7 linked regions of the Homo sapiens genome follow. The protein of the gene in region 5 purifies or fractionates together with the protein of the main gene of each other region. This does not show direct contact. Each region holds a gene or a part of one and is shown on either strand. Other genes may lie near its edges. The genes, in order: DPY19L4, ALG9, POMT1, CLPTM1, TMPRSS12, SLC47A1 and VRK1.

Region 1 (3,500 bases), on a different chromosome or scaffold from region 5:
AGACTATTTAATTTTCTTTCTTACGTTGTATTTTTCAAATTTTTTAACTTTTTTGTTTGTTTGTTTTTTGAGACAGAGTCTTGCTGCATCGTCCAGGCTGGAGTGCAGTGGCGTGATCCTGGCTCACTGCAAACACCACTTCTCAGGCTTAAGCAATCCTCCTACCTCAGCCTCCCAAGTAGCTGGGACTACAGGCATGAACCACCACATTCTCAGCTAATTTTTTTTTTTTAATTTTTTTGTGGAGATGAGGTCTCACTGTATTGCCTAGGCTTAAATTTTTTTTTTTTTTTTTTTTTTTTGAGATGGAATCTCCTCTGTTGCCCAGGCTGGAGTGCAGTGGCACATTCTCGGCTCACTGCAATCTCCACCTCCTGAATTCAAGCAATTCTTGTGTCTCAGCCTCCCAAGTAGCTGGGACTACAGGGGCACACCACCACACTTGGCTGATTTTTTTTTTTCTGATTTTTTGTAGAGATGAGGTCTCACTATATTGCCTAAGTTTAAATTTGTGTGTGTGTGTGTTTTAAGACGGAGTCTCACTCTGTCACCCAGGCTGGAGTGCAGTGGCACAATCTCGGCTCATTGTGACCTCCGCTTCCCAGGTTCAAGCGATTCTCCTGTCTCAGCCTCCCAAGTAGCTGGGACTACAGTTGCATGCCACCATGCCCAGCTAATTTTTTGTATTTTTTTAGTAGAGACGGGATTTCACCATGTTAGCCAGGATGGTCTCGATCTCCTGACCTCATGATCCACCTGCCTCGTCCTCCCAAAGTGCTGGGATTACAGGCTTAAGCCACCGTGCCTGGCCTCCCATTTCTTGATTTTAACTTTCATTGGTTGAAAAAGACAAACAGCTTTTTCTTTTTTTTTTTTCTTTAAATAAAGACAGGGTCTCACTATGTTGTCCAGGACGGTCCTGAACTCCTAACCTCAAGCAATCCTCTGCCTCAGCTTCCCAAAGTGCTGGGATTACTGGCGCGAGCCACCATGCCTGGTTAATAAACTGTTCTCACTTCAACATTACAAGTCCCAGAATTTTGGGATTCTCTATTTTCTTCTTTATTCCCACTTACAAATAGTCCAATTCTATTCTAAACCCAGATCTCTTTCCTGTAGTCAAATGCAGATGTTAATAACAAAGGCACTCTAGTAACATTCTGTTTTGCAATCTCATTACCTAAAATGATAGAAAAAAATAGTATTGTCAACTGTTCACAGGAAACAGTATTATCAAATGTTTTGTCATGATATAATATAGATCTTCATTTTTCCAGCTCCCAAATATAGTTTTCTTGCGGCCAGCCCCTCACCTAGATTTGTAGATTACCCACAGCTTTTATCTTGAGCAAATTTATATATAGGCCTCAACTTTTAGTGCAGAGCAAGCAATCTGAGAAAGCTGTTTAGCCCTTAAGGATGACACATTCTCCAAACCCATCTTTAGATATGGTTATAGAGGAAAATGGAAGAGAAAAGATCTCTAGAGTGTAAAATCAAGGACCATGGAAAACAATGAACTGGAAAACAATTCCCCAGGAACACAACTGGGGCATAAACACAACAGATTCCTTATCCCAGAGTAAGGGGATATCCTGTCCCTGTCCAACAGTGTATACTGAGAGTGGGGGGATGTGCAGAAAAGAGTTAACACAGCAGGCCTGAGACCGCTTTCCTGAGAAAGGCCTGCTTGCAGGCGGATCACCTGAGGTCAGGAGTTGACCAGCCTGGCCAACATGGTGAAACCCCGTTTCTACTAAAAATACAAAAATTAACCAAGTGTGGTGGCACATGCCTATAATCCCAGCTACTCGGGAGGCTGAGGCACAAGAATTGCTTGAACCCAGAAGATGGAGGTTGCAGTAAGCAGAGACCGCACCATGGCACTCCTGCCTGGGTGACAGGGTGAGACTCTGTCTCAAGAAAAAAAAAGAAAAAGAAAAAGGAAAAAAAGAAAGCCCTGCTTGCAAGGTAGGCTCTCTTGGCTGGCATCTAGGAACTTCAATTTCAGGAGAGTTCCCACCATTCTCTAACTGATAACAGTGCCTATCCTCTTTGTACAAACAATGTAGTTTATGCTTTCTTTCTGGGAGTCAAGAATTTTGGGACATGGTAGGCAGAGGATACCTACATGACCAGCCCCCAGTAAAAACCCTGAGCACTGAGTCACTAATGAGCTTCCCTGGTAGATAAAACTTTACAAATGTCACAATTTGATGCTGAAGGAATCAGGCCCATCCTGTGTGACTCTGTTGGAGTGGAAATTTGGAAGCCTATGCCTGGTTTCTTGCAGATTTCACCAAAATAGGCCTTTTCCCTTTGCTGATTTTGTTTTATATTATTTGCTATAATAAATCATAGCTGTAGGCTGGGCACGGTGGCTTATGCCTATAATCTCAGCACTTTGAGAGGTTGTGGCAGGTGGAACACTTGAGGTCAGGAGTTCAAGACCAGACTGGCCAACATGGTGAAACCCCGTCTCTACCAAAAATACAAAAATTAGCCAGGCGTGGTGGCATGTGCCTGTAGTTCCAGCTACTGAGGAGGCTGAGGCAGGACAATCGCTTGAACCCAGAAGGTGGAGGTTGCAGTGAGCTGAGATCGTGCCACTGCACTCCAGCCTGGGTGACAGAGCGAGACTCTGTCTCAAAAATCAATCAATCAATCAATCAATCAATCATAGCTGTAAATACAACTTCATTCTGAAACTTGTGAGTCCTTCCAGCTAATAACCAAACATGGGGGTGTTCTGGGGAACCCCCGACATAAAACAGATAACCTGTCTTTTTAGTTCATAGATCTCTGGATTAGAATGAGTCATAGCTGGCCCTGATGTAGATAAGCCTTTGGGTTCAAGATTAAGGCTGTGACTAGATAAGAGAGAGTTTTCGGGTGTGGGAAAAAGTAAGCGTATTTTGTCTGAGGGAGAGAAATAAATCACAAGGACAGGGTGTGGTAAACTATATTATTATTCACAACTATTTTCTCCTTCCCTTTAAAAATCTTATATATCCCTGCCCACTACCATGTGACCTGGAACACTTCCCTGTAATCAAAGTATACTTCACATCCCATCGTCTGAATTGATTATATGACTTGCTTTGGCCAATAAAAGGTGCGTACAAGTGATAGTGTGCCAGGTCAGCAGAAACTTTAAGAGACATTGCATGATTCTGCCTCCTCTTTTCCTACGTCACAAGAAAAATCTTTCCCAAATACGGACTATTCCTTCGCAACACATAAAACTACGACAGCCAAACTGCAGCCACAACATGTAATATTAATTAGAAATAAATGTTTGTCATAAGCCAGTGAGATTTGGGGGTTGTCCAAAACCTAGTGAAAGCTGAGCATATACTTAATCTCAAAATATGTATATTTAAAATATTGACATAAAATATACTTTCTAGTGTAAACTATTTTTGTAGTAGCACAAATTCCAAGTCTATCTAACTTACGTTTTGGAGCTCTTTCAGGAATTGGAATGTCACTGATTTTCT
Region 2 (3,500 bases), on a different chromosome or scaffold from region 5:
GCACTTAAGTTTGTGAGCAATTATTTAATAAGTAAAAAAGAATGAGGCAGATACACTTCTCCCTGAAACTCACCTGAAGTGCAGAGAGAGCCACAGCGCCACAGAGACATATAAGTGGATACACAGGGAAAAGAAATCTCTCCTCTTTGTGAGGCTGGATGAAGAAAATTATAAACCAAATATACATTGGAGCCAAGGTAAGCCAATACGGGTGGCCTAAATTCTGAACTGCAAGACACAGAAAAATACCCATCTTTCATTATATTAGAACAAAACAACATATTTAGTTTTAGTGTTATCTTGATCTCAAATTTAGGAGTATGCCCTAGGACACTCCATAGAATGTTTCTACTCTTGTATTCACACTTTCTCCAATGCCATAAAGGCATCAAAAGGAGAGAAGAATATACTCCTTAGCTCTCCCAAGAGATCTAAACTCTAACAACAAGCACAATACTAGATTTGGTTAGGACACATATAAATGTCAAGTTAATGGCTAATAGAACTTAATAAATTCTACGTTAGATGAAGGAAAAATAAGCCGTCTCCTTTAATGAGTCCTGCCACTAAGACGAAAAGTTCCTGAGTTTAACCAAAAGCATAACATAAATTCATTTCTGGGGTTTTAATTCCAATGTTCTGTTTAATTGGTGTCTCTTATCTATACACCAATCAGTCTGTTCAAATAGCCATGGATCAAAGGAAAACAAAATTGTTGGATTCTCAAATTCATTACTGGTTTTCATCAAGCCACAAATGACGGAGTTTGTTTCAAGGCAAACATAAAAATGCTCTTAAAGGAAGTTCAGTGATTGTTTTCTCTCCATTTTGCAATACTCATCCACTCCGGATCCCCAAATTGGAACAAAAATGTACTTAAAGCATGTGAAAGAATTAAAGGAATGTAATGAACACTAAAACCCAAGAACCTGCTGGAAAGTTCCCGTGGTTAGGTACATGAGAAATGAGAGATAAGCCTGCAACCCACAGTGAAGGCATCTCCTACTGCGTTTACAGGAGTGATAATGAGCAACGCAAATGCGGGCAAATGGTAGATAGACAGCGCCCCCTGGTGTCCACCATGTTAACAGTAAGCCAGTTTACAAGATCAGGATTATCGTCAAGATCCACTTTAGCTATGCCTAATTTAGCATTCCTAGGCTATCACTTTCACTGTAGAAATTCTTTAAGGATAAAAATTCTTGAACTACAATAACAAGATTTTGTTTCAACTTTTGCTCTAAGACATTATGGGATTTTAGATAATAATTTAGAATATATACCTTTCTAGGTAGTATATTTTAAGGGGGAGGTTTTTTGTTTTTTGTTTTCTGAGACGGAGTCTCTCTCTGTCACCCAAGCTGAAGTGCAGTGGCACAATCTCGGCTCACTGCAACCTCTACCTCCCAGGTTCGAATGATTCTCCTGCCTCAGCCTCCTTAGTAGCTGGGATTACAGGCATGCATCAACACACCAGGCTAACTGTTGTATTTTTAGTGGAGATGGGGTTTCACAGTGTTGGTCATGCTGGTCTTGAACTTCTGACCTCAGGTGATCCACCCGCCTCGGCCTCTCAAAGTGCTGGGATTACAGGCGTGAGCCACTGTGCCTGGCCTAAGGTGGGGTTTTTTAATTAGAAGAAAATAAATCCACTTATTGTCCACAAGTAAACAGTCCTTTTCTCTTCTGTACCTTAAAGGCTAACGAGTAATCTTTTTTTAATAAGGCAAAAAATTTTGAAATGTCCTCCATAAAATATACAAAATCACAACCACAGCTAGATATGATGAAATCAAGAGTAATTTCTTTCCTGCTTCTTAATAATTTTCTATGGTTTGGGGGACTTTTTTTTTCTCTTGAGACAGGGTCTCGCTCTGTCACCCAGGCTGGAGCATAGTGGCACAACCATGGCTCACTGTAGCCTTGACCTCCTAGGCTTAAGCAATCCTCCCACCTCAGCCTCCCAAGTAGCTGGGACTACAGGTGTGCATCGCCATGCCCGGTTAATTTTTTAATTTTTTTCGTAGTGACAGGGTCTTGCTATCTCACCCAGGCTGGTCTTGAACTCCTGGGTTCAAGCAATCCTCCCACCTCGTGCTCCCAAAATACTGGGATTATAGGCATGAGCCACTGTGCCTGGTCTTTTTTCTCTTAAAAAAGTATTGGTTCTATTCTAAAATCACATAAAAATATAAAGAAAAAAACAGAAAATGTTTTCTTACTAGGTAGATATGTGCATACATTATGCATTTTAAACCAATATTTTATACTTAAAATTTTATCATACTGTAGAGAACAGCTTAATATCCTGTTTTTTTACTGACGTTACAAGCATTTCCAAATTTTCCACAAGCATAAATAATTATTATTGTTGTTTTTAAAAACAGAGACACAGGTCTCACTATGTTGCCCAGAGTGGTCTCGAACTCCTGGGCTCAAGCAATCCTCCCACCGTAGCCTCCCGGGCAGCTGGAACTATATGCACGTGCCACTGCTCCCAGCTATCATAAATTATTTTTATAGTCAGAAAAATAGCTATTTTCAAAAAAAGAAAAAGTGATCCTTAAGAAATAGAAGGGATAGAGGAATAAGTTAACACCTCAAGGGAGCAAACAGCTGAGTCTAAAATGTGGGACATTATGCAAGATGATGGCCTGGTTTCTTTAAAGAAATCTTCGAAAGAAAAAAAGTAAGATGGGGGTCTTCTTAAAAAGCTTAAGAAATATAACACTAAATTCAGTACGTGACCCTTGTTGAGATTCTGCTTTAAACTAACTATAAAAGGCTATTTTTCAGACAATCTAGGAAATCAATGGGTATTAGATGATATTAAGAAATTACTGATAATTTTATTAGGATAATGGCATTATGGCTACGTTGAAACAAAAGTCCTAACACCAAAGAAAAGTGACTCTGAAGGCTGCTCTAATATTCTTATAATACAACGAACTCATTATAAACCATTAATAGTAGAAAAGCAGAATGGAGGTGGGATGGGGGAACTGATCATATGGCATCCAAATCAGACTGCAAAGTCTGAAATTAAATCTTTTTCCAAACCTCATATGAATTTCTGTTCAAATCTGTCTTCCATAAAAGAAATGAGAGGCACTAGATATCCAGAGCCACGACAACTTGAGAAAACACCAGCTGTGCACTACAGAATCAGAGCAAGCAAAGCAAACGACAAACCAAACTTTCTCCAATAAGGCAGACACAGAAACAAAAAGGAACAAAGAAAAGCATCATGCTTCTGAGGAAGTCCAAAGCTTCCCTTACTTCACTATCAAATTTGGGGAAATCCCTGTATGGTTCAGATTTTATACTTTCGTTTGAAGTACTATCTCGTGGATTACCTTAAGCAACCTATCAGGTTAATATACACTTCTTTAAAAGATAGAAAACTCAAATAGGCTTGTTCTCTTCTGAGATTTTTTTTGAGATGGAGTTTTGCTCTTGTCGCTCAGCTGGAGTGCAGCGGCGCAGGGTCTTGGCTCACT
Region 3 (3,500 bases), on a different chromosome or scaffold from region 5:
ACACTTTGGGAGGCCAAGACGGGTAGATCACCTGAGGTCAGGAGTTTGAGACCAGCCTGGCCAATATGGTGAAACCCCGTCTCCACTAAAAATACTAAAATTAGCCAGACATGGTGCTGTGTGCCTGTAATCTCAGCTACTCGGGAGACTGAGGCTGGAGAATTGCTTGAACCTGGGAAGCGGAGGTTGCAGTGAGCCGAGATTGCGCCATTACACTCCAGCCTGGGTGACAGGGACTCCGTCTCAAAAAAAAAGATATTTAGCAAGCAACTCCTCAAAATGAAAAGGTACTGTCTCACAAAACGAAACAAAAAAAGGTACTGGACCATCTCAGATCAACAAACCACCCAGAATCTCTGTTCTCGTTAACTAGGAAGACACTCCATTTTCCATACCTGTGCTTTTGGCAGTTGAAGAACTTCAGGTAGGACAACACGGCCAATAGATTGAAAAATATTAACACTGATTCCAAAAGCATTAGCCTTGACTGAGTGATGAGAGCATTCTCTGTTTCAAAGAGGAAACACATGTCAATTTTAAGGTAGCAAGGGAAAACGTATGAGGATGAAAAACACTCATGAAAAAAGGCATTACTTCAGAAGCGATACAACTGTGTGGGGCTGTTGTGAATGTTAAAACATTCTATAGACACAAGGCCTCATACAGTCATCACCCAATACACATCTCTTTTGATTTTCTACTGTCTCTTTCTTTTCTTTGAGTCAGGGTCTTGCTCTGTCGCCCAGGCTGGAGTGCAGTGGCACCATCATGGCTCACTGCAGCTTTGACCACCAGGGCTCAAGGGATCCTCCTGCCTCAGGCTCCTGAGTAGCTGGGACTATAGGCGCATGCCACCACACCTGGCTAATTTTATTTATTTATTTTTTTGAGACAGAGTCTTGTTCTGTCACCAGGCTGGAGTGCAGTGGTACAATCTCGGCTCACTGCAACCTCCGCCTCCCGGGTTCAAGCGATTCTCCTGCCTCAGCCTCCTGAGTAGCTGGGACAAAAGGTGGGTGCCACCATGCCCAGCTAATTTTTGTATTTTTAGTAGAGATGGGGTTTCACCATGTTGGCCCGGATGGTCTCGATCTCTTGACCTTGTGATCCACCCGCCTCAGCCTCCCAAAGTGCTGGGATTACAGGTGTGAGCCACCGTGCCCGGCTTATTTATTTTTTTTGAGATGGAGTCTTGCTCTGTTGCCCAGGCTGGAGTGCAGTGGCGCAGTCTTGGCTCACTGCCACCTCCACCTCCCAGGTTCAAGCAATTCTCCTGCCTCAGCCTCCCAAGTAGCTGGGATTACAGGCACCTGCCACCACACCCAGCTAATTTTTTGTATTTTTCGTTATTTTTAGACAGGGTTTCACCATGTTGGCCAGGCTGGTCTCAAACTCCTGACCTCGTGATCTGCCCGCCTCAGCCTTCCAAAGTGCTGGGATTATAGGTGTGAGCCACTGCGCCCAGCCTAATCTAACTTTTCATCTGCTTTAATTTCATCTGTTCATAAACGTGAGCTGGAAGACCCTCTCTGAAGAGGATCCACTGACTCACGAGTCCATCTCAATTGGCCAAGGCCTGGGAGGTGGTGGAACAAGGGGAAGTTATCATTTGGTCACAAGATTGGTTGGAGATGGAGGTGCCCACGTGTGCATGGACTTTGCAGCAGCATCTGGGCAGTTTTCTACTGCCATACCCCGACTGCTGATAAGAGTCTGATCCCACAATTCAGCAATCCCATAACCACGGGGTCAGCCTGGGAGCGGGTGACTTGCAGCGTCAAATTTGGATGAACCAGATGCACTTTCTGGTGCAGCTCGCCCACCAAGCCCATGTGATCTTCCGGGCCAAAGGGTCAGTTCTTCCCTGCATGACAGCAAGAGCAGGCAGGGGCGCAGGTCTTACCGATAAGCATCAACAGAGCAGCTCCCATGGCGGCACAATGAGAAAAGTGGAGCTCCAACACTATCTGGTAGGCCATGGGGACCGACAAGGCCCCCGCGAGTGCTGGCAGCAGGCGCAGGGACCACACAGGCACGTTGCTACTGTATTCTGGAAAAGCAACCACACTGCAGAGCTGACTACACTGTGCACACACCATCTCTGTGTACTGCAGCTATGCTTTCACATAGCGCCGTCATGTTCACAGACTCTAAAATGCACGTTTACAAAACTGGGGACCCCATCAGCAGCAGAGTGCATAAACTATGGGTGAAGGCTTTGAAATTAGCTTTGCATAGTCATGGAACCCGATCTCATGAAGCATAGACAGGACTAAGGATTCTAAAATTTACCGCCTTACTTATACATATTTACCCTCCCTGTTTTCTTTTTTCTTTTTTTTTTTTTCTCTGAGACGGAGTCTTGCTCTGTCCCCCAGGCCGGAGTGCAGTGGCGCCATCTCATCTCACTGCAAGCTCCGCCTCCCGGGTTCACGCCCTTCTCCTGCCTCAGCCTCCCGAGTTGCTGGGACTACAGGCGCCCGCCACCACGCCCGGCTAATTTTTGTATTTTTAGTAGAGACGGGGTTTCACCATGTTAGCCATAATGGTCTCGATCTCCTGACCTCATGATCCACCCGTCTCAGCCTCCCAAAGTGCCAGGATTACAGGCGTGAGCCAGCGCGCCCGGCCTACCCTCCCTATTTTCAAAAACATTGTGGCAATGGACAAAATTCACATGTACAACCGATCATCACAATCAGACGCTCTGTGATACGTGTACCAACGACAAGGGCTGAAATAATGACTGCAACTGAACAGTAAGATTTTAACCAGACTTTCCAGAAGTCTTTCATTTGTATCCAACCAATTTATTATTTTCTGGACTCAGATTAATAAGGCACAGTTTCTGTGGGACTAGGTATGAAAGGAAAAAAAAAGCCACAGTTGTTAATCCTTACAAAAGTCACAATCTCTTCATTCTAACCTGCGCACATTAAAAGGGAAATGAAAATTATCTTTTACCTGCTCCAATTCTGTTCCACAAAAAATTGCCATCGAATCCTCCTAAATAACCTGAAACAGAAGATTAATCAGTAACTATCCCATTCAGCAAATATTTCTAGAGTACTGTGGCAAGCAATAAACAAGATGCATCAATAATAAGACCTGGTTTCTGCCTGTAAGAAATGCACTGATAAGTTTTAAATGTATTTGAGGTCCTGAAGGGTAGGGGCTACTCTCCTGATGACTCCTACCTCCCAAGGCCAGCACCATGTGGCCAAATGGCGGCCCACTGTCATCCAAGAAGAAGATTTGTTTCATGTAAAAAGAGATGTACTGCCCATAATATACTTCGTCAAAACTAGAAAAAAAAACAACAACCCATATTATATTCAATTAGAATCTTAACTGTAAACAAAAACTGTGAGGATAAATGTGTATGTGTTTCCAAATGACTTTGAGTGAGTGATCAGCAAAGGCTGGATCTTTTGCCCCAATTGTTTCCCATCCCCAAATATTAAGATGCATACAGCATCACCCACCCACAGAGACATGGG
Region 4 (3,500 bases), on a different chromosome or scaffold from region 5:
AAAAGAAAAGAATGATGGCTGGACGCGGTGTCTCACGCCTGTAATCCCAGCACTTTGGGAGACCAAGGTAGGTGGATCACTTGAGGTCAGGAGTTCAAGGCCAACCTGGCCAACATAGTGAAACCTTGTCTCTACTAAAAAATAAAAAAATTAGCTGGGTGTGATCATGTGTGCCTTAGTCCCAGCTACTCAGGAGGCTGGCACATGAGAATCGCTTGAACCTGGGAGGTGAAGTTGCAGTGAGCCAAGGTTGCGCCACTGCCCTCCAGACTGGGTGACAGAGCGAGACGCTGTCTCAAAAAAAAACAAAAAACAAAAAAAAAAACCAGAATGACTGTGTCCACATTCTGCTTCTAGCTACCCAGACAGAAATAGAACAGAAATGTGCCCTCCACCCCAAAGCTGAGAAGGCCTGCTGGGGAGAAAGGAATGAGGGCAGCTGTCTTGGACTCAGCCGAAGAAGGCCCCAAAGAGAGATGTCCCTTTTACTTGTTCAATACTTGCTGATTCTGCACCCAGCCCCACGTTGGGCAGTGCTGGGGACATGGAAGTGATCTAGGCAGCCCCAGCCTTATTATCACAAGGCTCACAGTCCCATACAGGAGTCCCAATGAGGCCCCAGAATGGGCTGGGATGGGGAAGCCCAGCAGGTGTGAGAACCCAGAGAGGGTGCTTAACCAAGCCTGAGTGCTCTGTGAGTCAGGGAGGGCTTCCTGGAGGAGGTTGGATTTGAGCCTAGGGCTGCGAGAGTCCACAGCCGTAGAGCCTGAGTCTGAATCTCTCATGCGATGTGGCCTTGGGTAAATCACTTTCCTTCTCTCTCAGTTTCCTCACATGTTAAATGAGAATAATAACAGTTCCTGCTTCACAGGGTTGCCGGGAAATTTCCATGAGTCAGCCTAGCTTAGTACCCTGCACTTAGCTCAATCAACATTAACTAATATTATTTTGAAACGGGGCTGCCTGATAAACTGGTGATAGGCAAACATCCCCAAGGACAATTACTAATCTTTCACCAGTTTAAAGTGGAGGACTGCACAACCTTAGAGGTAGCTGGGAGGGTCCCAGGCCAATTCCACCCCTATCTACCTTTTTCAGGTAGGGGAAAGTGAAGCCCAGAGATCTCAGGGACTGGCTTGTGGTCACAGACCATGTGAGCCCAGGGAAGGGCCAAGCCTGGAGCCCAAACTCCACATGCTCTCAGCAAGGAGCGGACTGGAGGAAAAGGTCCTTCAGTGCCAGTCAAGCAGCCATGGGGCCAGAAACCGAGAGCTGCCCCCACCTGTGGGATATCGAGCTCAGCAAAGTGCTCGTAGCAGCCGTCTGAGTTCTCGCCGCTAGTCCAGTCGCCATACACAAGATCGTGCTGTTCCCAGAAGAGTGCCGACGTGGCGTTGAAGTCTGTAAAGTGCTCGTGCTCTGAGATGTACACATGCAGGTTCTGTTGGGACAGGAAGGGAACAGAGCTCAGGCCTGCTCTTCAGAGCCTCTGCAGGCTGGCTAAAGAGCTATGGCAGCGGTCAGCACACTCAGGGGAACAGTAATTATGGAGGACAGGGGAGAGGAGAGAGGAAGAGCAGCAGAGAGGACATATTTTCTCTTTTCTCATACCACCATGTTTGTCCTGGTCTGAGCCTGTGAAGTCAACGAACAAAGAACACTTGGAGACTGGCCAGCCTGCCAATTAGAATTTAGGGGTAGGAAGGGGCAGGAGCTCCCTGAATGATCTCCTGCCCTCATGGCTGCTGGGCCTTCCTGGTCAGAGCTCTGCAGGCTTATGGACGAAGCAGTCCAGAGCTACAAAAGCACTGTGAGCCACCGGGCACGGTGGCTCATGCCTGTGATCCCAGCACGTTGGGAGGCCAAGGCGGGTAGACCACTTGAGGTCAGGAGTTCGAGACCAGCGTACCAAAAAGGTAAAACCCCATCTCTACTAAAAATACAAAAAATTAGCTGGACGTGGTGGCACATGCCTGTAATCCCAGCTAGTCGTGAGGCTGAGGCAGGAGGATCACTGGAGCCCGGGAGGCAGAGGTTGCAGTGAGCTAAGATTATGCCACTGCACTCTAGCCTGGGCGACAGAGTGAGACTCCATCTCAAAAAAAAAAAAAAAAAAAACCCACTGTGACCCAACAAGAACTTCCTCCTTTCTCAAGCCCCAATGGCCATGTTTGCTCAGAAAAGCCTAGACTGACAGATCTAAATGCTTTTGCTCTGGAGGCTCCTGAAGCCCTGCCCTGCCTGTGCCCAAGCCCACTGTGGAAGTGCAGGTCTCCTCTCCTTCCGGGCCCACCTCCTGTCAGCCTCTGCTGGCTCCCTGCCCTCCCCACCTCTCACACTCTCTCCCTTGCACATCTCCCTCTGCAACCCTGAAAGGCTGAACATACTTTTGAAATATAACATCCAAAGACCCTGATTTAACCTATTTTAACCAAATGAATTTGCTTTTTCTTTTGGGTGACACAGGTTTTATGTGCTGGGGATGGACCCAGGTGACAGAGGTCTCACGTGTTGGGGATGGGCCCAGAGTTCCTCAACCCTGGACCTGTTTTCCTAGACCTGCCAGTGAGCAAGGACCTGGTCTGTCCCGACTGCTGACATCACTCCTCCACATTCCACCCCTCCACACCCCATCACCTCCCAAGTCTGCCCTACCACCCGGCAGTTACCATTAAAGTGTCTTTGGGGAACAGGTTGCGGCTGGCGACGCGTGGAGCTCCTCCGGGGCCCGCCTGGTCCTGAGGGGCCGGCCCTCGGCGGAACCAACTGCTGATGGCCCAGATGATGAAGATCCTGAGGAGAGAAGCAGCAAGGTGGTGAGTCCCCAAGCCTTGGCTCTCCGCCATAGACCCGCCTGACTTCCTTCTGACTTAGCACATGCTGGCGCCTGACCTGGGGCTAGTGACCAAGTCAGGGAGGCCCTGAGAAGGTAGTCACAGGGCTGGCAAGGAGATAAGATGTCCCTAAAGACCACATCTGGGGAGGGAGCCCAGATGCCACCGTTTGCCAGTGTGTGGGGGTAGCTGGCACTGCCCTGGTCTGCATGCAGACCCTTGACTCTAAATCCTGCAGGAGCTCCTGGTGACCACAGGGCTGCAGGGGCTGACTCTTGACTCAGACTGGGAAACCTGCCATCCAGCCCCCTGGGATCCCCCGAGAGGAGACTAAGAATCTGGAACCCCTTCAGTGTGCAGATGGATGAATTAAAAGAAAAAAGAAATAAAGAAAAAATAATAAACATAAAATTTTTAAAAGAAAGAATCTGGAATCCTAGCGCTTCAAAAGCACAGAACCGGGGATGGTTAATGGCTACAAAAAATAGAATGAACGAGGACGGGCGCGGCGGCTCATGCCTGTAATCCCAGCACTTTGGGAGGCCAAGGCGGGCGGATCACGAGGTCAGGAGATTGAGACCATCCTGGCTAACATGGTGAAACCCTGTCTCTACTAAAAAATACAAAAAAATTAGCTGGGCATGGTGGCGGGCGCCTGTAGTCCCA
Region 5 (3,500 bases):
TTTAAAAGGTGAATTTTACTGCATGTAAATTATGCCTTAACTTTAAAAAGAAAATAAGTGCATAAGTGAGAAAACTGAGAAAAGAAAAATAGATCCAACAGGTCATTTCTACTAATGTGAGTTAGGACTGGCTGTACGAAAAAGCCTCTAGGTTTTAGTAGATATCAGTGGGCTGCTGGACTACAACATATTCTTTCTCAGTTCCAGTTACATAGAGATAATTAAAACAGTATCCTCTTTCCCTTTTCTAAAAATATCCATTGGTGGCTGTATGCAGTGTCTCATGCCTGTAATCCCAGCCCTTTGGAAGGCCGAGGTAGGAAAATAGCTTGAGCTTAGGAGTTAGAGACCAGCCTGGGCAATATAGCAAAACCCCATCTCTACAAAAAACACAAAAATTAGACATGGTAGCACATGCCTGTAGTCCCAGCTACTGGGGAGGCTGAAGTGGGAGGACCAATTTATCCTGGGAGATTGATGCTGCAGTGAGCCAAGACTGTGCTACTGCACTCCAGCCTAGGTGATAGAGCAAGACCCTGTCTCAAACAAACAAAAAGAAATATCCATTGGTGCTTATATACTCATATCCATATCCTATGCAAGGATGAGTGCCCTGCCCACTCTGTTGTCAAGGTGCTCTCATTTAATACATGACCCCAGATCCCCTGACCACAGCTCTCTGGGAAAGGGGTGGGCCTCTAATAAAGGTTTATTCATAAATTGAGCAATGGTGGTATCACCTGATTGAAAAGCTGGGTTGGGATAATCAGATAATTCACCATGAAAATTGATGAGAAGGCCAGTTGGCAATAGGAGCTGAAACTGAAAGATTATGAGGTAGAATGATAACACATCATATGTAAGTTCATGTTATAAGGAAGCCATTCAGTGAAAGGGAGAAAAAGGGCAGACAAAAAACAAAACAACAACGACAAAAACAATCCCTTCAGAGACACCTAGCTATAGACAGCTCCGCCCCAAATATCATTCCTCATGTGATGAATCTGGCTGCATATCAGAATCCAGTGCTTTGAAAAGGAGTAAAGACCATGACTGGTTCTTAGAGACTAAACCGATTTCTGGGTGGGAAGTGGGGAAGGCAAATCCAACACAGTGGCCAGCAGGAAGTCGATGAGGGAGCTTGAAGATATCTACCAATGTGAAATTAAATACTTTATAATAACAAGCATCCAACTTGATAAATCTCATTTATTGACTTGGCAAGGCTTTTTTTTTTTTTCCTGACAACCTTTTATTTGATAAAGGGGCCTTCAAAATAGAAATCAACTTTCCAACAGAGTTTCCAAACCTGCAAAAAATACTTAAAACATAAAGTTATCACCATAAACTTGATGAAAAAGGACAAGCCTGTCTTCCAGTAACTAGTGTAAAAAACTAGACACTAATAACTAAACTTGGCCAAGTAGTCCCGTACCTCATATTACTGGTGAAAGAACTCAGACCTAAGCATCTCCCTCACGCTGATCTAGTTGAAGAATATATATGTGTATATATATATATATATTTTTTCTCTTTTTTTGAGATGAAGTCTCGCTCTTTCGCCCAGGCTGGAGTTCAGTGGCATGATCTAGCTCACTGCAACCTCCGCCTCCCAGGTTCAAGTGATTGTCCTGCCGAGTAGCTGGGATCACAGGCACCCACCACCACGCCTGGCTAATATTTTGTATTTCTAGTAGAGACAGGGTTTCACCATGTTGGCCAGGCTGGTCTCAAACTTCTGACCTCAGGTGATCCTCCTGCCTCAGCCTCCCAAAGTGCTGGGATTACAGGTGTGAGCCACCACACCCAGCAGGTTCTGTCATCTTATAATACTGTCCTCCAATCCATGAACACAGGATGTATTTTCATTTATTCATTTATGTCTTCTTGTAGCACTCCAGCCTAGGCAACAAGAGCGAAACTCCCTCTCATAAAAAATAAAAATAAATAAAAATAAAAAAAACAAAAGGATGACAGAACCACCCAAAGCAATCTTTTCCCCAATATGGGAAAAAGTGGACTTCCCCATATTGCTCTGTAGACTGTAAACTTTTTAAAGAGTTTTTAGGGGCCGGGCACAGTGGCTCACGCCTGTAATCCCAGCACTTTGGGAGGCCGAGACGGGCGGATCACGAGGTCAGGAGATGGAGACCATCCTGGCTAACACGGTGAAACCCCGTCTCTACTAAAAATACAAAAATTAGCCAGGCATGGTGGGGGGCGCCTGTAGTCCCAGCTACGCGGGAGGCTGAGGCAGGAGAATGGCCTGAACCCGGGAGGCGGAGCTTGCAGTGAGCCGAGATCGCGCCACTGCACTCCAGCCTGGGCAACAGAGCGAGACTCCGTCTCAAAAAAAAAAAAAAAAAAAGTTTTTAGACTGAATGCAATCCCTATCAAAATCCCAATGACATTTTTTTTTTTGCAGAAACAGAAAAACCCATCCTAAAATTCATATGGAATATTAAGAGACTCCAAATAGCTAAAATAATCTTGAAAAATAAGAACAAAGTTGGAGGGCTCACATTTCCTGATTTCAAAACTTACTGCAGGCCGGATGCAGTTGCTCACACCTGCAGTTACCACTTTGGGAGGCCAAACTGGGAAGATCACTTGAGCCCAGGAGTTTCAGACCAGCCTGGGCAACATAGTGAAACTCTGTCTCTACAAAAAAATACAAAAATTAGTCAGACATGGTGGTGCACACCTGTAGTCCCAGCTATTCAGGAGGCTGAGGTGGGAGGATCACCTGAGCCTGGGAGGTGGAGGTTGCAGTGAGCTGAGATCATGCCACTGCATGCCAACCTGGGTGACAAAGCAAGGCTCTGTCTAAAAAACAAAACAAAAAACAAAAACACCACCAAGAAAAAATACTTACTATAGATCCATACTAATCCAAAGAGTGTGTGATACTAGCATAAGGACAGATATATACATCAGTGGAGAAGAATTGAGAGCCCAGAAATACACCCTCTCTATATGATCAATTGATTTTCAATGAAGATGCCAATACCATCTAATGGGGAAAGGACAAACTTTTCAATAGATGGTGCTGGGGAAACTTGATAGCTGCACGTAAAACAATGAAATTGTACCCTTACCTGATACCTTATGCAAAAATGGACTCAAAATGAATCAAAGACCTAAATCTAAGAGCTAAAGCTATAAAACTCTTAGAAGAAAACATAGGGGAAAAGCTTCGTGATACTGGATTTGATATAATGATTTCTTACATATTACACCAGAAACACAGGCAACAAAAGAAAAAAAATAGATAAATTTGACTTCATCAAAATTAAAAGCTTTTGTGTATCAAAGGACAATATCGAGAGTGAAAAGATGACCCACAGAATGGGAGAAAATATTTGCAAATAATGTGTCTGACAACAGATTAATATCCAGAATACATAAAGAACTCCTACAACTCAACAACAAAAAAGCAAAGAGCCCAGTTCAAAAATGGACAAAGGACTTGAATAGACATTCCTCCAAAGAAGATATAC
Region 6 (3,500 bases), on a different chromosome or scaffold from region 5:
AGCTCTGTGCCTGGGTTGGAAATTGAGGCTACTTTTTTGTGTTAACATGATTTTGAGCCTCCACGCGAGAGTGGGGTGTTTTCTTTTTACTGAAATGATTTCAAACAGCAATGTTTCTGAACAGTCTGATTTTAGACAACAAAGTTTCTCAGTGAGTCAGAAAGCACTCGTCATTCCACTAGGGGAGTAATGACACTTTATGGGGACAGCGTGACCTTGGGAGAAAGGAGGTTTCCTTTTACGTTTGCACTGACTTTATCTGCGTCTGCTATTCTATCCGGATGCGGGGCAGGACAGAGTTTTACTTCCTTGGTCTGATGTAATTTTACTTTCACCCCTGTCTTACTTTGAGACACCAAACAGTCTGGATGTTTCACCAGTCCTGTACTTTTGAAAGTTAGATATGTTGGAATCCCTTCCGTATTCTAGAAAGAAACTCTAGTTTCTTCAAGATCTTAGGTCAATTTTCTGAATTTCTATTTTGGTGAAGAAAGTATTCTCATTTTCTCCTATCGTCCAGTGTCAAAGGTGCCTTGTTGACCCATTTAGCCCCTGCCAGTCCTTGCACTGTTGGAAATAAGCCATTTATCTTCTTCCTTCCCTGCTGCTGAACATATCTTGCCTGTGTCTCTCTGTGGCCAGAACTCCGCACTTTATACCTCAAAGAGAGAAGGAAGAGAAAGGGGTGGGAGAGTGGAAAGGCAGGAGCAACAAGGACATGACCTCCCCAGTTAAGCCCCCCAGCTATGCCTGTGATACCCGCTGAGCAGGCCAGCTGGAGCCTGTGTGTGCTTGGGTAGCAGAAAGGCAGTCCTATTCTGTGGATCTCAAGGATGGCATGCGGTGTCCTTTTTCCAGGGAATTGTACTGCCCCAGATCGTAACTGGAGTTGCAGCCAACCTTGTCAATGCCCTCGCCAACTATCTGTTTCTCCATCAACTGCATCTTGGGGTGATGTGAGTCCAACATACTCTTGGGACAGGGAGAAGGGATGACTTGCATGTGGTTTTTCCAGGAGGGAGAAGAGTGGGCTCTTCAGCTGGTTCTTGTGTCCATGCGTGGTCTCTTTCTTGCACACTGTGGAAAGCACTGTCAGGGATGGAGGGTGAGGCTGCTCTGGGAAGAAGACCTTGGCCTGCTGAGGACAGCACGGGAAGGGATGAGTCTCCCCTCCTCACTGAGTTGGGCAGGGAGAGGCGCAGGAAGGTACCTCCCTCTCATTGGGACTGTTCTTTCCAGAGGCTCTGCACTGGCAAACTTGATTTCCCAGTACACCCTGGCTCTACTCCTCTTTCTCTACATCCTCGGGAAAAAACTGCATCAAGCTACATGGGGAGGTAATGACTGCCCTTTTGTCTTCCAACTGGGATGTGGGTTTTGTCTCAGGTTGAGTTCCAGCCCGATGGCCAGATCTCCTGGAAATGTGTGTGTCCCCCCCACAGGCTGGTCCCTCGAGTGCCTGCAGGACTGGGCCTCCTTCCTCCGCCTGGCCATCCCCAGCATGCTCATGCTGTGCATGGAGTGGTGGGCCTATGAGGTCGGGAGCTTCCTCAGTGGTCTGTATGAGGATGGATGACGGGGACTGGTGGGAACCTGGGGGCCCTGTCTGGGTGCAAGGCGACAGCTGTCTTTCTTCACCAGGCATCCTCGGCATGGTGGAGCTGGGCGCTCAGTCCATCGTGTATGAACTGGCCATCATTGTGTACATGGTAAGCAGGGGAGCCGATCATGGGGAGGTGCCAGGCGTTTTCCTTGCTTGGTATCTGAAAGAGTCTATGGATGAGCACAGGCATTCGTACATGAATCATTTGTGAAATGATGGACAAAAGTCAAATCCCATCCTTGAGCCTGGGAGGGTACCTCTGCTACAGCTGGATCTTCCCTAGGAACTGAAGGGGGGCTGGAGAGAAACTGCACATGATCTGCTGGTTCTCCATCTCCTAACGCAGCTCCCAGCTGAATCTTCCCTTGAAAGATTTGATTTTGTTTCCATACTTTTAGAATCTTTTTCAGTTGTCACAACACAAATGCCTTGAGGGGCCAGGTGGGTGGCATAGCAGAGGGATGAGGCTGGGTGTATGACCATAAACATCAAGCTGCCTGTGTCACTATGCCCGCTCCTGCCTGGTTCTGAAGCCTCTGAAAACACAGTGTGGCTACTGCAAGGTAGATCCCCAAAACAACTGAAAGCAGGGTCTTAAAGGGATTTTTTTTTTTTTTTTGAGATGGAGTCCCACTCTTGTTGCCCTGGCTGGAGTGCAATGGTGTGATCTCGGCTCACTGCAACCTCCGCCTCCCGGGTTCAAGCATTTCTTCTGCCTCAGCCTCCCAAGTAGCTGAGATTACAGGTGCCTGCCACCACGCCCAGCTAATTTTGTATTTTCAGTAGAGACAGGGTTTCACCATGTTGGTCAGCTGGTCTTGAACTCCTGACCTCAGGCGATCTACCCGCCTTGGCCTCTCAAAGTGTTGGGATTACAGGCGTGAGCCACCGCGCCTGACTTGTTAACTGTGTTCACAGGAGCATTATTGACAGTAGACAAAAGGTGGAAGCAACCTATGTGTCTGCGGGTAAATGAAATGGGTTCTATGCATACAGTGGAGTATTATTCAGCCTTAAAAGGGAGGAAATTTTGATCATAGAGAACACTAGTCATTAGGAGGCTTTTCTTTGGCTTTATTTTCCTGAAAACATCAACTGGAGATTCTGAAGGAAGCAAGTACCATTTTAGAAATGTAAAATTAAAAACAAAGGGAGTTTATAATGTGGGGAGAAACTCAAGCCAGCAGATATGCTTGGCATTTTTTGCAGTATTAACACTTAGATTTTTTCCCTCTGATATTGGTTATGTTTTAAAACATAGAGTACACATTTTCTGTTTTGTTTAAGAATTATTCTCTTGCAGACCTATGTTTTTTGTTTTTGTTTTTCTATCCTTGGCAGAGTTTTTTAACATGGATTTTTTACTTCACTTTTAATATTTTATTTACATTTTATATTTGAGTAAATTCATTAACTATATCTAAGTCAAAATGCTTAATGGTATATAGGATTCCACTATATGTGATATACTTTTAAAATCAATTTCCTATGGTTGAATAGTTTATTTCCAATGTTTCAATATTAACAACTCTTCAAGGAACATCCTAGGAAAAAATATCTTCATATACTTGTCTGATTATTTCTTTAAGATTCATAAAAGTGGGCCCAGGGTATGTTCACGGGGCGATGCTGCCCTCCCAGCTGGCCCATGGGTGACCCTGGGAACATTAACTGCCTCACAACGTTTGTGCCTCAGTTACCCGTAGATGTAGTGAGGGTAACAATACTTACTCTCGTTGGTGATAAGGAACAGCTAACACAACACACAGGGTTTTTCTGCTCCCAAAATGGGATTCTTCAGTGCACCAAATCGAAGAAAGCACTGGAGCTCACGCTGGTTTCTCCATTGTTTCTCCTTAACAGTGGAAACTGTAACTTTTGTTCTAGTAGCATCTAG
Region 7 (3,500 bases), on a different chromosome or scaffold from region 5:
TTCAAATCAAAAAGACTGAGAATACTTGATGACTATTTTCACATATTTGAAAGGATGTTACGTGGAAGAGGGATTCAGCCTGTTCCACATTTCTCCAAAAGGCAGAAGTGAGTAGAAGAAATTAAGTAGACTTCCACTCAATGTAAGAAAGAATTTTCTAATGGTCAAAACTTTAATAAAAATAGGATAGGCTGTCTCTAGAGCAGTGGTTCTCAACCAGAGATGATTTTGTCTCTGTAGCCAGAGATGCCACTAAACATCCCACAGTGCAGAGAACAAACAGTGACCCATGTAAAATGTCAACAGTCCCATGGTTGAGAAATTCTGCCCTAGAGATAGTGAGTTCTCTGTCGTTGGAGGCATTTCATCATAGACCAGACCATGTGATGATGTCACAAGAATGGTGGGCCAGGAATGGTGGCTTGTCATTCCAGCTACTCAGGAGGAGGATCATTTGCTCCCAGGAAATCAAGGTGGCAGTGAGCTATGATCGCACCACTGCACTCCAGCCTGGTTGACAGAGCGAGAGGAAGGGAAGGAGGGAAGGAAGGGAGGGAGGGAGGGAGGGGAATGATGGGAAGTGAGAGTGAATTGAAAAAAGTTTTGTTTCAGATACCTCTCCAGAGAAAAATACCTTCAGGTATATCAAAGTGAAAATGATGATGATGACAAACATTTATTGAACACTTACTGTGGGCCAGACATTACACCAAATGACTCATGTATACAGTTTGCAGTTAATTCAACAACTCTAAGATAGGTATTATTTTACCTTGATTTGATGCTAAATTGAATTGCTCTAATGTCACACAGCAGTCAATATTTGAACTAGATCTACCTGACCCAATTTTATATGTCACTGTCCAAAGCATAAACATCAAATGACTTTCAAAGCTTTCACACTCTGGAAAAGAAATGAACAAGCACATATTCCACAAGTATCAGGACAATGTCTGAACAGGTTTGTACTCACTGTAAACCTAGCTGGCTAGGAGAAAGAGGAAAGGATTATTTGAAGTAGTCCTGTGATGAAGAAGAGAACAATTATCCTGATTGTCCCCAATTGCCTACTTCTGTAAGAGCCAAGAAGCTCTTATATACCCATGGAGGATGGGATTAATGATGACATCCTTTTATCCATAGGCGTGAAAGCTCAGAATGGACAGACGTTTGAACATCCCCGACTGGGAATCCTGCCCTTAACAAATACACTAGATGCAGATACATGGTTTCTTGGCTGCCTATACTCACGCCCATCTGTCAGGATGGCAGTATGCCTGCTCACATGTTGGTCAAACTGTCACTAGGGCATAGGTGCCAAGCAATGATAGTTTTAAATGGGCAGCTTGCATAGCACTATAAGAGCTTGCTCTTCTGCAGAAAAAAAAAAAAAAAAAGAAAAATTCTCTGTGATAATACTGAAGGGCTGCAAATCACAAGTGAAATATTCTTGGTCAATCTCAACATTTCAGTGGAAAAAAAGATCTAGACAAGTAGAAAAGAATCAGAATAAGGAAGTTAAATCAAACAGAACAGGTACTTTAAAAACATGTGAGATGTTGCATGAAAGCTTTTAACACTGCCCTTCTTTCATTAACATGTGTCAATGGTAACCTCTTACACTGTAAAATCCTTGCCTCAACAAGTCATCACTGATTTTTTTCTTAATGGAATGATACATTTTTCCATGTTCTAAATAGGAACAGAAATGCATTGATTTCTAGTAGTTCGACACTATACAGGTTCTATTTGTTGACTGATTATTTTTAAAATGACTTAAGTCTAATCTACAGCCATGATAATCTTTTAAATGCACAAAAGAAAGCAGAAACCAAAGAGATCCCCACAGATAAACGGCAGGGGAGGGGAAGAGTATAATTTGCATGGAGAAAGAAACTAACAACTGAAGTAGGCACTAACAAAATGGAAAGTGAGTACTTTTGCTCATGAATTTAATAGGACTCGAGGGCAAAAACATAGATCTGTTATCTTTCACATCCCCCTGACTACAAGCAAAATGTTCCTATACTACATCTAGGTTTCTAGTGTATCCTTTAATATCTCACATGAAATATATAATGTCTTTACTGTCCGGAAATTCTTCCCTAAGACCAAAACCTTAAAGCTGCAATTTGAGCCATTTGTTCTTATGCAGTCCTCAGGATTTTGAAGAACAGCTGGTCATCATCATTCTCTGTATAGTTCTTCACATACAAGTATCAGGACATACTGATTAAATAACCCCTGAGTCTCCTCTTTGCCATGATAAATAAATCTGATCCCATTAACTTTTCCTCATTGGACCGATTTATGAACTCTTCATGTTTTTATCATTTCAGTTGCTCAACGCTTGGACTCTTTTCAGGCCTGGTAAGAAATGTCACCCACATCAACAATGAGCCAACGGAAACTACTCTTTTTCCCAAATGTACAACTTAATAACAGTAGCATAAATACGAAACAGTTTGGAAGTCCTGCTGACTTCTCCATATCCATCACTGAGGACAGCAGCAAAAGTTTGAAATCTACCACTGCCTTCTAGAAAATACTAGGAATTTATAACATTCTGAAGTAACACCACTTTTTTAGCTTTCTGGCAGATATTTGTAAAACAAAGTTGTAAGTCAAGGGTCATGATTATATCCTGTTCTTCCTACCAACGTATCACTGCCACAAATGGTCCTAAAACAACTTCTCTTTAATACCATTTCTATCATACCATTTTCCTGATTAAGAATATACAGCACCTTCCTAATAGCCAATGAAACTGATTACAAATGCTTCAATCTAGCCAGAAGTTTATATACTCTTTCTTTTTCACGAACCAATGATCCTTCCTTTACTTCTCTACTTCCCTTCACTTGCATGACTCCCAAAAATAGCCAGTTCTTACTTATTTTCTCTAGAACAGATCTTTGCCCATGTTATTCTCTAAAATGTTTTCCCACTTTTTCCAGACTCCAGCCATGTTATACCTTCAATAAACCTGTATTTATTAATAGTTAATTGCTCATTCATTTCTTCCTGTCTTTGTTTTGATACCTAATTTACAGTATATGGCCAACTGATTTTTGATTTTTAAAACTTATTGAATGGAGAAAGGGTAGACTTTTCAACAAATGGTTTTGGAACAACTGGACATCCATGGACAAAAGGAAAAGAAAAATGTACCAAGATCTAAAGCTCACATCCTGTGCAAAAATGAAACCAAAAAGGATCACGGATCTAAATGTAAGACATATAAGGGTAAAACAGAAGAAAAAATGAGAACAACCTCCTGACCTAGAGTTAGGCAGAGAGTTCTAAGATAGGCACTAAAAACACGATCCATATATTGAGAAGTTGGACTTTAACAAAATTTGAAACTTTTTTGCTGCTAAAGACACTGTTAAGAGAATGAAAAGACAAGCCAGAGACTGAGAGAATATATTTACAAATCATATATTTGGCAAAGGATTTTGTATACACAACATATAAAGAATGCTCTAAAATCAGTAAGA

Evidence for each region.
Region 1: the proteins of TMPRSS12 (region 5) and DPY19L4 purify together in Homo sapiens (affinity purification with mass spectrometry; 2 studies listed by BioGRID and IntAct, with this or other methods). This does not show direct contact.
Region 2: the proteins of TMPRSS12 (region 5) and ALG9 purify together in Homo sapiens (affinity purification with mass spectrometry; 2 studies listed by BioGRID and IntAct, with this or other methods). This does not show direct contact.
Region 3: the proteins of TMPRSS12 (region 5) and POMT1 purify together in Homo sapiens (affinity purification with mass spectrometry; 2 studies listed by BioGRID and IntAct, with this or other methods). This does not show direct contact.
Region 4: the proteins of TMPRSS12 (region 5) and CLPTM1 purify together in Homo sapiens (affinity purification with mass spectrometry; one large-scale study listed by BioGRID and IntAct). This does not show direct contact.
Region 6: the proteins of TMPRSS12 (region 5) and SLC47A1 purify together in Homo sapiens (affinity purification with mass spectrometry; 2 studies listed by BioGRID and IntAct, with this or other methods). This does not show direct contact.
Region 7: the proteins of TMPRSS12 (region 5) and VRK1 purify together in Homo sapiens (affinity purification with mass spectrometry; one large-scale study listed by BioGRID and IntAct). This does not show direct contact.

The regions. Positions count from the first base shown.
Region 1 is NC_000008.11:94,726,400-94,729,899, reverse strand, and holds part of DPY19L4 (probable C-mannosyltransferase DPY19L4), read right to left. Parts: coding exon 3,459-3,500; intron 1-3,458. UniProt on the Homo sapiens protein: Probable C-mannosyltransferase that mediates C-mannosylation of tryptophan residues on target proteins.
Region 2 is NC_000011.10:111,840,582-111,844,081, forward strand, and holds part of ALG9 (alpha-1,2-mannosyltransferase ALG9), read right to left. Parts: intron 229-3,500; coding exon 74-228; intron 1-73. UniProt on the Homo sapiens protein: Mannosyltransferase that operates in the biosynthetic pathway of dolichol-linked oligosaccharides, the glycan precursors employed in protein asparagine (N)-glycosylation.
Region 3 is NC_000009.12:131,505,918-131,509,417, reverse strand, and holds part of POMT1 (protein O-mannosyl-transferase 1), read right to left. Parts: intron 3,305-3,500; coding exon 3,198-3,304; intron 3,016-3,197; coding exon 2,965-3,015; intron 2,068-2,964; coding exon of another isoform or gene 2,051-2,067; coding exon 1,904-2,050; intron 508-1,903; coding exon 396-507; intron 1-395. UniProt on the Homo sapiens protein: Transfers mannosyl residues to the hydroxyl group of serine or threonine residues. Coexpression of both POMT1 and POMT2 is necessary for enzyme activity, expression of either POMT1 or POMT2 alone is insufficient.
Region 4 is NC_000019.10:44,972,380-44,975,879, reverse strand, and holds part of CLPTM1 (putative lipid scramblase CLPTM1), read right to left. Parts: intron 2,794-3,500; coding exon 2,670-2,793; intron 1,442-2,669; coding exon 1,283-1,441; intron 1-1,282. UniProt on the Homo sapiens protein: Involved in GABAergic but not glutamatergic transmission. Binds and traps GABAA receptors in the endoplasmic reticulum (ER).
Region 5 is NC_000012.12:50,845,926-50,849,425, reverse strand, and holds part of TMPRSS12 (transmembrane protease serine 12 precursor), read right to left. Parts: intron 1-3,500. UniProt on the Homo sapiens protein: Required for male fertility. Plays a critical role in sperm capacitation and acrosome reactions during fertilization, and also plays a role in the regulation of proteins involved in spermatogenesis.
Region 6 is NC_000017.11:19,554,354-19,557,853, forward strand, and holds part of SLC47A1 (multidrug and toxin extrusion protein 1), read left to right. Parts: intron 1-858; coding exon 859-956; intron 957-1,239; coding exon 1,240-1,337; intron 1,338-1,442; coding exon 1,443-1,556; intron 1,557-1,641; coding exon 1,642-1,709; intron 1,710-3,206; exon of another isoform or gene 3,207-3,358; intron 3,359-3,500.
Region 7 is NC_000014.9:96,803,882-96,807,381, reverse strand, and holds part of VRK1 (serine/threonine-protein kinase VRK1), read right to left. Parts: intron 1,070-3,500; exon of another isoform or gene 1-1,069. UniProt on the Homo sapiens protein: Serine/threonine kinase involved in the regulation of key cellular processes including the cell cycle, nuclear condensation, transcription regulation, and DNA damage response.